Linked DNA regions of Homo sapiens: region 2 is linked to region 1. The links come from fine-mapping of genetic effects on gene expression. A gene starts in region 1. The other region holds a variant in brackets. All regions are shown on one strand. Distances are between the middles of the regions.

What was found. PIP is the estimated chance that this variant, and not a neighbour inherited with it, causes the effect.
Region 2: its variant is the best candidate, but not a certain one, in a credible set for the expression of FABP6 in cerebellum (GTEx, PIP 0.51).

What each region holds. Positions count from the first base shown.
Region 1 is chr5:160,227,585-160,231,972 of GRCh38, forward strand. It overlaps FABP6 (fatty acid binding protein 6), which reads left to right and starts at 1,922. Exons shown (of 4, transcript NM_001445.3): 1 at 1,922-2,040. The coding sequence starts at 1,974.
Region 2 is chr5:160,249,976-160,254,363 of GRCh38, forward strand. CCNJL (cyclin J like) reads right to left here. Exons shown (of 6, transcript NM_001308173.3): 6 at 1-3,823. The coding sequence ends at 3,403. Among named protein-coding and RNA genes, the nearest start is that of FABP6, 23 kb to the left of the region's middle. The variant C/T (reference allele first, on the strand shown) is at 2,654.

The DNA of each region.
Region 1 (4,388 bases):
CTGATTTGGGAGGATCACTGGAGCCTGGGAGGTTAAGGCTGCAGTGAGCTGAGATCACACACGGCACTCCAGCCTGGGCGACAAAGAGAGACCCTGTCTCAGGAAAAAAGAAAAGGAAAGAAAAAGCCTAGAAGGAGAGGTACCAAACTACTATCACAGGCCACCTCTGACAGGACTCTCACTTGCTCTGAATTATTTGAAATTTTTATATATATAACTTAAAAAAATCCATGACGTGTGTGTGTGTGTGTGTGTGTGTGTGTGTGTCTGTCTGTCTGTCTGTCTGCCTGTTAGACTAAAGTAAGAGTCCTGGCTGGAGTTAGAAATTCCAAGATTGGAGATTAAAGCCTGGTAAAATGTGGCAGAGTTGGTTTTTCATCAGTTCAGAGACCGCTTAGTCCCAGGTCTGGGAGTCAGCAACTGTATTGAATTCAGCTTTAGATGGAAATGAAGGAGATTCATGGAGAGCAAGCCTGGGAAAAGGAAATAGACGTGCAGAGGTTTCCTGAATTAATAATAATAATTGGCCGGGTGTGGTGGCTCACGTCTGTAATCCCAGCACTTTGGGAGGCTGAGGCAGGCGGATCACTTGAGGTTGGGAGTTTGAGACCAGCCTAAGCAACGTGGAGAAACCCCGTCTCTACTAAAAATACAAAATTAGCTGGGTGTGGTGGTGCATGCCTGTAATCCCAGCTACTCTGGAGGCTGAGGCAGGAGAATTGCTTGAACCCGGGAGGCGGAGGTTGCAGTGAGCCGAGATCACACCTTTGCACTCCAGCCTGGGAAACAAGAGTGAAACTCCATCTCAAAAATAAATAAATACATAATAATCACGAGAGCCTTTGCAGAGTGTTTTATACTTTGCACTGTCAATTTTGCCCAATGCAGAGGACATTCTCACAAGATGGGTAGGCCGGAGTGATCACGGAGGAGATAGAGTCCCTGCATGTGAAGTGGTACTGAGAGACACAGCAGGAAATGGAAGTCAAGATTCTGAACCCCTAACCCCTTCCAGCTCTGAAGCTTGAACAAAATAAAACTCATCCAGCATCCAGCCCAGTGCCTGGTGCACAGGCATCTTCAAGGCACCTGGCACCTTCTCCTCCAGGTGCGCTGCCTAGGCCCATGGGTGGCTGCTTTACTCTGGTTGCATTATCTGCACCCTTAGGAGCATCTGTTCTCCTTCAAGTTTGCTTTGCTCCAGCTAAACTCATTGTTTCCTTTCATCATGGCCCTTTCCATCTTCGTCACACTGTTCCCTCGTCCTAGAATATCGTCTCCCTTTGTTCTCAGCCTCCTCCAACCTTCCTGCTTCTCTACACATCCAAGTCCTATTGGTCCTCCAAGACGGGTGCCAAATGCCACCTCCTCCCCAAACATGCACTAGCCCTGCGCTGGACACCATTGCTCCTTCCCCATGCTCCAGGTCAGCCATCTGCTTTTCTCCTGGGGCACATCACATCCTGCTTACACAAGAACTCTCTGCAGGTGTGTGCTTGTCTCTGGACTAAACCAAAGGCTCTTTTGGGAAAGGTGTGTGTCTCGTTCATCTGTGTTTCTTCAGTGCTGGCCCTGCATGCAGCAAGTGCTCAAGTGCTTTGGCTGCAGAGTTAGAGGGTGCAAGAGTGATGAGAGATGGTGAGAGCATGGGTTGAGGGCAGGGCATGCGGGAACGGAGGGAGAGATGGGCAGAGAGGTGATGACTCCTCAAACCCGTTGCCATCCTGACCCTGCTGGCAATGGGGTGACAGCACTTCCCCAGGGTGAATAACCTCGGGGCTCTGTCCCTCCAGGTCCTGCCCACATCATAAAACAGCAAGTGCTTCCTCTTCAGGACAGGAGGGAGAAGAAGTGGGGTGACTTAGGGGCTGAGCCTCAGCAACTGGGAGAGTTTATAAGCTGGGATAGCAGACCCCTCAGCACCACCCATTCTCCTCATCCCTCTGCTCTCTGGCCTCCAGCCTCCCAGCAGCATGGCTTTCACCGGCAAGTTCGAGATGGAGAGTGAGAAGAATTATGATGAGTTCATGAAGCTCCTTGGTGAGTGAGCTCCTGGGTATCCCTTCCTCGGGGTTGGTTTGTCACAGCCAGCTCTGGGCCAGGAACCCTAAAGTAGAATGGGACAGGATTTCATCCATTCATTCACTCACTCACTCATTCATTCATTCACACATTTGTTGAGCAACTGCTTTCTCCCAGGCTCTGAGGATAATAAGAACTAAGACACTCTTTAACTTTTTTATTTTATTTTATTTTATTTTATTTTATTTTATTTTATTTTATTTTATTTTATTTTATTTTATTTTTGAGACAGAGTCTCACTCTGTCTCCCAGGCTGGAGTGCAGTGGCACCATCTCGGCTCACTGCAACCTTCGGCTCCCACGTTCAAGTAATTCTCCTGCCTCAGCCTCCCGAGTAGCTGGGATTACAGGTGTGCACCACCACGCCCGGCTAATTTTTTTTTTTTGTATTTTTTTAGTAAAGATGGGGTTTTACCATGTTGGCCAGGCTGGTCTTGAACTCCTGACCTCAGGTGATCCACCCAGCTCGACCTCCCAAAGTGCTGGAATTACAGGCGTGAGCTGCCGCACCCAGCATAGACACTCTTTGACTTTAAAACACACATAGAATATATTAGTATTTCCACTTTACTGATGGAAAACTTGAGGCCCAGGGAATTAACTAGTCCAAAGTCACACAGCTAGTAATTGGTAAAGTGGAGACTTGGTTGGTGAAGTAGAGATTTGATGTTTATTTAGTCAAACATGTATTTATTTTTATTCATTTATTTTTGAGACGGAGTCTTGCTCTGTCTCCCAGGCTGAAGTGTAGTGGCATGATCTCAGCTCACTGCAACCTCCGTCTCCTGGGTTCCAGCAATTCTCCTACCTCAGCCTCTCAAGTAGCTGGAACTACAGGCATGTGCCACCACATCTGGCTAATTTTTTGTATTTTCAGTAGAGACGGGGTATCACCCTGTTGCTCAGGCTGGTCTTGAACTCCTAACCTCAGGTGATCCACCCACCTCGGCCTCCCAAAATGCTGGGATTACAGACGTGAGCCACCGAGCCCAGCCCATCAAACATTTATTGAACACCAGCTATATGCAAGGCTATCTCAGTGTTACCAATGGGGACTCAGCGTGACTTGCCCAAGTCAGTGGCAGAGGCCATTGGCACCCAGGACCCTGTGATGAGTGGTGTCACCACATCCTGCCTGGGAGAGGAAACCAAAGGGTTAGCATGGAGACCAGGTTTGACAAGTCACTTCTTCACACAGTCATTCAGCAAACACAGGCCTCTTACTGTGCCAAACACTGTGGGCAGAGAGACCAGTGATTTCATTCCTTCTCTCACTGCTTGACTTGTAACACCAGTCTGTTGTGAGGAACCAATGAGACAGTGGATCTGACAATCTTGTGGAAATCTCAGTATCTCACTATCTAAAAAGTCTCAGGCAGTGTAACTCTCAAGGTTCAGAGGACAGCTCAAGGGGACCCGTGCCCTCCCTCTTGGTGGCCACTTCTTGCCTGCCAGCTGGCTCAGAGCAACCCTGAGACCAGGGCCCTTGTGCCTTGGGGCCTTGAGGAGTCGAGAGTCCCTCTGAGTCATGTATTGGCAGTGGCCCTGAAGGAGCAATGACTTGGCTTCACCTATAACAGCCTCGTGTTGTGGGATGGGAAGTGAGCCCACTTTGGTTCTAGACCTGATTCGGTCATTAAATTTCAGTGAAATACTGGGAAGTCCCTTTCCCATTCTGGGTGCTCACTTCCTTATCTGTAAAATAAAAGTATTAGAAGACACAGTCTTTCTCTGGCAGGGAGGAGGGGACGGAGTCCTGCTCTGTAGCCCAGGCGGAACTGCAGTGGCGCGATCCCAGCTCACTGCAACCTCTGCCTCCAGGGTTTAAGTGATTCTTTTGCCTCAGCCTCTCAAGTAGCCAGTATTACAGGCACCTGCCACCATGCCCAGATAATTTTTTTGTATTTTTAGTAGAGACAGGGTTTTACCATGTTAGCCAGGCTGGTCTCGAACTTCTGACCTTAAACGATCTGCCTGCCTCGGGCCCTCAAGGAGCTGGGATTACAGGCATGAACCACCATACCTGGTCTTGAAAGTCTCATTCATTCCAGAACTTCGCGAGCTTGGCAAGATTCAGTTATATTTATATTACTATCAGAAGCTTGGTTATTATTGATGAGCACCCACCATGTGCCAGGAGCTTCACAAACACACTCACATTGAATATAATTCTTGTAACAGCCTTTTGGGATGGGCCTTATTATCTCCATATTGTGGATGAATAGACTGAAGCTCAGAGAGATAGGGACTTTCCCCAGCCACATGGCTCACAGCACGTATTAGCTGTCTCAGGCACTGTGCTCTTA
Region 2 (4,388 bases), 22 kb after region 1:
TCAGGCTTGAAAACCTCTGAATTTAACCTGATGCCAGCCCTGGGAGGAACTTTAAGACTATCTTTGTGCTTTTTAAAGCTTTCATAGCTGTCCTCCAGCATGGGAATTAACACAATCTTACATGGGAGTGCCCAAGGGTGGAAGAAATACAAGTGGATCCCTCTGGCTGAAGGCCACAGAGGTCACAGCCTCTGTGGCACAGTCTCCCCCCGCCCCAAGAGCTTAGAACCATCCACCAACTTGACCATCTCCATAGTAACAGATGGAGAAATGGAAGCCCAAAGAGGGAGGGATTTGTCCAAAGTGAGGTGGGTGCTCTTGGTCAACCCAAGACTTGCCTTGTCTCTGAATCCCCAAAACTTAGAGCTTCCTGCCTCACCTAGCCTTGCACACAGCGGGTGGTGAGCACTGCCCTCAGCCCCGCCCTTGGCGGTGTCAAACACACTCCTGGGTCTGGGCTGCAGCCTCAGGCCCTGAGCTCATCTTCCCATTCCTCCCCTAATTGTCTAATCAAAGGCATCTGCACTTAGCAAATGTCTCAGCCCCACAGTGACACCGGCTCTCTGGGGTGGTTCTCCTGCTGGAAGCTGGGTAGGTAGAGGGCAAGACAGAAGTCTTGAGTGAGACTCCCTTCAAGGAGGAGTACGAATCTGACATTTTTCATAACAGCTGATGCTATATCTCATCAATTCTACATATACATATTTTGACATGTAACGCTTCTGAAATCAGAATGCAACATATAATCAATGGTATCTTGCAAACTGCCTCATGATTTAGTTTTCTAAAAAGTCTTATTAGTGCATAAAATAATAGTGCATCTTACAAAAAGCTGATCTTATGCTTGAAGAAATATAATAATTATCTCCTTTTTTGGAGGTACTGGCCTTGATGTACATTATGTTATTTAATCCTCTTAAGAACCCTATGAGGCAAGGTGTTATCACTCCCATTTTAACAGGTGACAAGATGGAGGCTCAGAGAGAGGTTGGGTCAACTGCCTTCCAACAGCTGGTAAGTGGTGTGATCATTAAGTTTATGTGGCAGCTTGGCTAGGCTACAGTGCCTGTTGTGTGGCTAGGTACTAGTCTAGATGTTGCTGTCAAGGTATTTTTAGATGTGATTAACATTTACAATCAGTTGACTTTAAGAAAAGCCTCCATAATGTGGGTGGGCCTCATCCAACTGGTAAAAGGTCGTAAGAGCAAAGATTGAGGTTTCCTGGAGAATAAATTTTGCCTCACGACTGCTAACACAGAAATCATGCCTGAGTTTCCAGCCTGTGGGCCTGCCCTACAGATTTTGAACTCTACTGCAACATCAGCTCTTACCTGAATTTCCAGCCTGCTGACATGCCCCACAAATTTTAGACCACAGCCTCTGCAATCACATGAGCCAATTCCTTAAAATAAATCTCTCTCCATATATATCCTACTGGTTTCTTTGGAAAAACCCTGAGACGGTGATGGAGCTGGGGTGTCAAGCCTTATACACCCCTCCGCTGGCCTCTGTGTGCCCAGGGAGGCCCAGCTCCTACTCAGAGGGCAGGACTCAGCTCCCGAGGTCTTGCTGCTGCCCCCAATATTCCACCCTCTACCATAGGGAGATGCTCACCAGGGCTGATTTGAGAGAGGGAAGGAGGGGCCGGCCCAAGAGGGGATGCCTAGGACAAGAGGTGAGAGATCAAGAGCAGGTGACGTGTTTATTGTGGGACGCCTCTTTCTGGGGGTCGTGCTGGCTGTGAGGGAACCCTCACAATCCCCAGGTCCCAGAACAGACAGATACAAGAACTTGAATCCAAACTGCTTGCACATAAATAGAACGGAGGTTGGCAAAGGAAAAAAAAACAACAACAAATGAACGTGCAGCCTCCTATGCTAGTGTGACACGGTGGCAGAGTCTTATCCACACCCCGTCTCTTTTCTTACTGTCTCCATGCTGAGATTTTCAGCTGCTCTGGAAAGATTCACCACCTTCCGATCTGACTCAGCAGCAGACAGCTGCCTTCCTGGCGGCCCCTGCCACAGTCTCCAGGACTGGCAAGGGGCTAAGGAATCCAAGACAGGTATTCCTCAAACAAAACAAAAATTGCTTCCACGGTCCTTTGCACCTCCCAGTTCTGCTGGGTGAACAATGTGTCCCCCAACCCCAAACTAAACCAAAGAACATGCTGAGCACAAGCTGCGAGTCAGAATAAAAACATATTGCACATGGTTACAAGAGTCTTCCTGAGGGCCCTCTCGCTGCAGATCCCTAAATACTGGCTTTTGATCCAACCAGTCGCTTGCCTATCAATGGTGGTATCAAACGCCCATGTACATCCCACTCCCCAAATACAGGTGGGACTAAGCAAATTTTCCACATTGCTATCCTTCGCTATCAGCCACACTCAAAGCCTAGACTGGGTTAAACTCATGCCCTGTAAGTATGTGGTGGAGAGAGGTGGGAACTGTTTAAATCTTTGTCTTCCTTTCAACGAGCTTCTCCCTCCCTGGGTAGTTATTAAAGTTCTAGTGGTGAACACAGCCTCCAAGACGTGGAATCTTCCGGAACCGAGAGCTGGGAAAATGGTTCTCTCCAACCATATGCCTTCAAAAAGGAAGCTCTGTGGTTACCTGCGGGTCCATCACAAGTTGGGTTCAAACTTGGGTTC[C/T]AAATTAACAGCCCTCATGTGGGACAGGCAGTGTGGCAATTAAATTTGTTTTTTTCTCCAAAGGAATTTTCAAGTATCACCAAATCCCTGATACAGTGTGTAAACAAGACATCTTACGAAACAGAAAGCAAGACCACTTCGGGAAGCAGCAGCACATGACATATCTAAAAGGCTGAAAATGGTTTTAGGTTCGAAAACAAAGGCAAGACAGCCACCCACTGTGCCTCGCAAGGCAAACACTCAGGCATACACACCAACTCAGGCCCCTCTGCATAGAGCCAGGGAAAGAAAAGCACCCAATATGGGATCCTCCGGGGGTCCTGAGAACACGCCAGGCTGCCCCTCCTTTTTCAGCGGTGTAGCTGCCATCAGCAAAGAATAGAAAAGTCTTTAATGCTAAAAACTGGACATGCTTGAGATCAGTGGTCTGTGTCCAGTTCCCACTCTCCTGGCCTCTTATCAAGTCTTTCTCGATTCACTGGGCCCCTGTGTGGGGGGACGGCCACCAAGCCATCCTTTTGTACCCTAGCCACACGTGGCAGACGTTTCTCAGAGGAATGCTCTCGGGTGAGGTATGTTATTGAATGTTTTGCTCTGGGTCAGTTTTATTTAAAAGGAGCACAGACCCTCCACGTTCCAAGGCTCTTCAGGGATGGCCTCCTGCTGCCTCACTTGGCTGAGCTCTCCTCTTCAGTGTCCTCTTCCTCTGCCCACATCTCCAAGGCTTCCTCGTGAGGTCTGGAGGTGGCCTATCTGTCAAAGCAGCCGGTGGGGAACATGTGGCTCCCACTGAAGTAGCTGCTTCCATAGGTGGTGGCGAGGCAGTGCCTGGGCTCAGCTGCAATGGCCATATGCATGCTAAGGGATGCAGGGACGGGCACGGGACACATATCCAAGGGCTGCAGCGGTTGGTACGGGGTGTGGAGGGATGAGCCTGTACTCCCCGAGAGCAGGCTCCCTGAACGGTGGGCCTGCAAGGAGTCCCGATAGGCCAAGCATAGGTCCTGCACGGGGGTCTGGAACTGTGCCAGGGTGGTCGCTGGCTGGCCGAGGGCCGGGTAGGCTGGTGGCTGGAACAGCACTTGAGTGGGGGTGGGGGGTGTGCCGGGCACCATTGCCAAGGCCTGGCTCTTGACGGCTACGGCATCCTTGAGGACGTTGTCATACACTCTGAAACGAGAAGACCTGGGTGAGAACTGGAGGCCAAAAGCCACCAGATGCCTGTGTGTGTCTCTACCTGTCTTGCTAAGTGGGACTGGAAGAGATGCGTGTGTCCTGTGTCCACCAGGCCTTACCTGGCTGTGCTCACTGTGTGTGGCACCGCTCCAGCTGTTCACAAACTAGATTCAGGCCTTGGCTCTCAGCTTGGATCTGCTTCCTACAGAAAATTTCTTCTGGCCCCTCCAGACTAGGCTGGCTGTCCCCACAGCCCCATGCTGCCCTATCTCCACAGTCAATACCCCAGAGAGTAACCTGCTCCAGAGGGTAACTTCTAGTTACCTGGCTTCCAGGAGGATGGCGCCTGCTTGTGCTCACCAATGCCTTCCCATCCCCTGGCACTGGAGTGTTCCTGGGGCCTGAATGAGCCCAATCTCTGCTTTCCAGGCAATTCTGGGCCAGCTCCATCCCCAGCGGGGTCACTCCTTAGCTAGCTGATATCAACCAAATTGACCGCTGGGGCCTAGGATTTTTCATCTGAAAAGGGGGCTGGAACAGAGATTTTTGCCATCTCAAA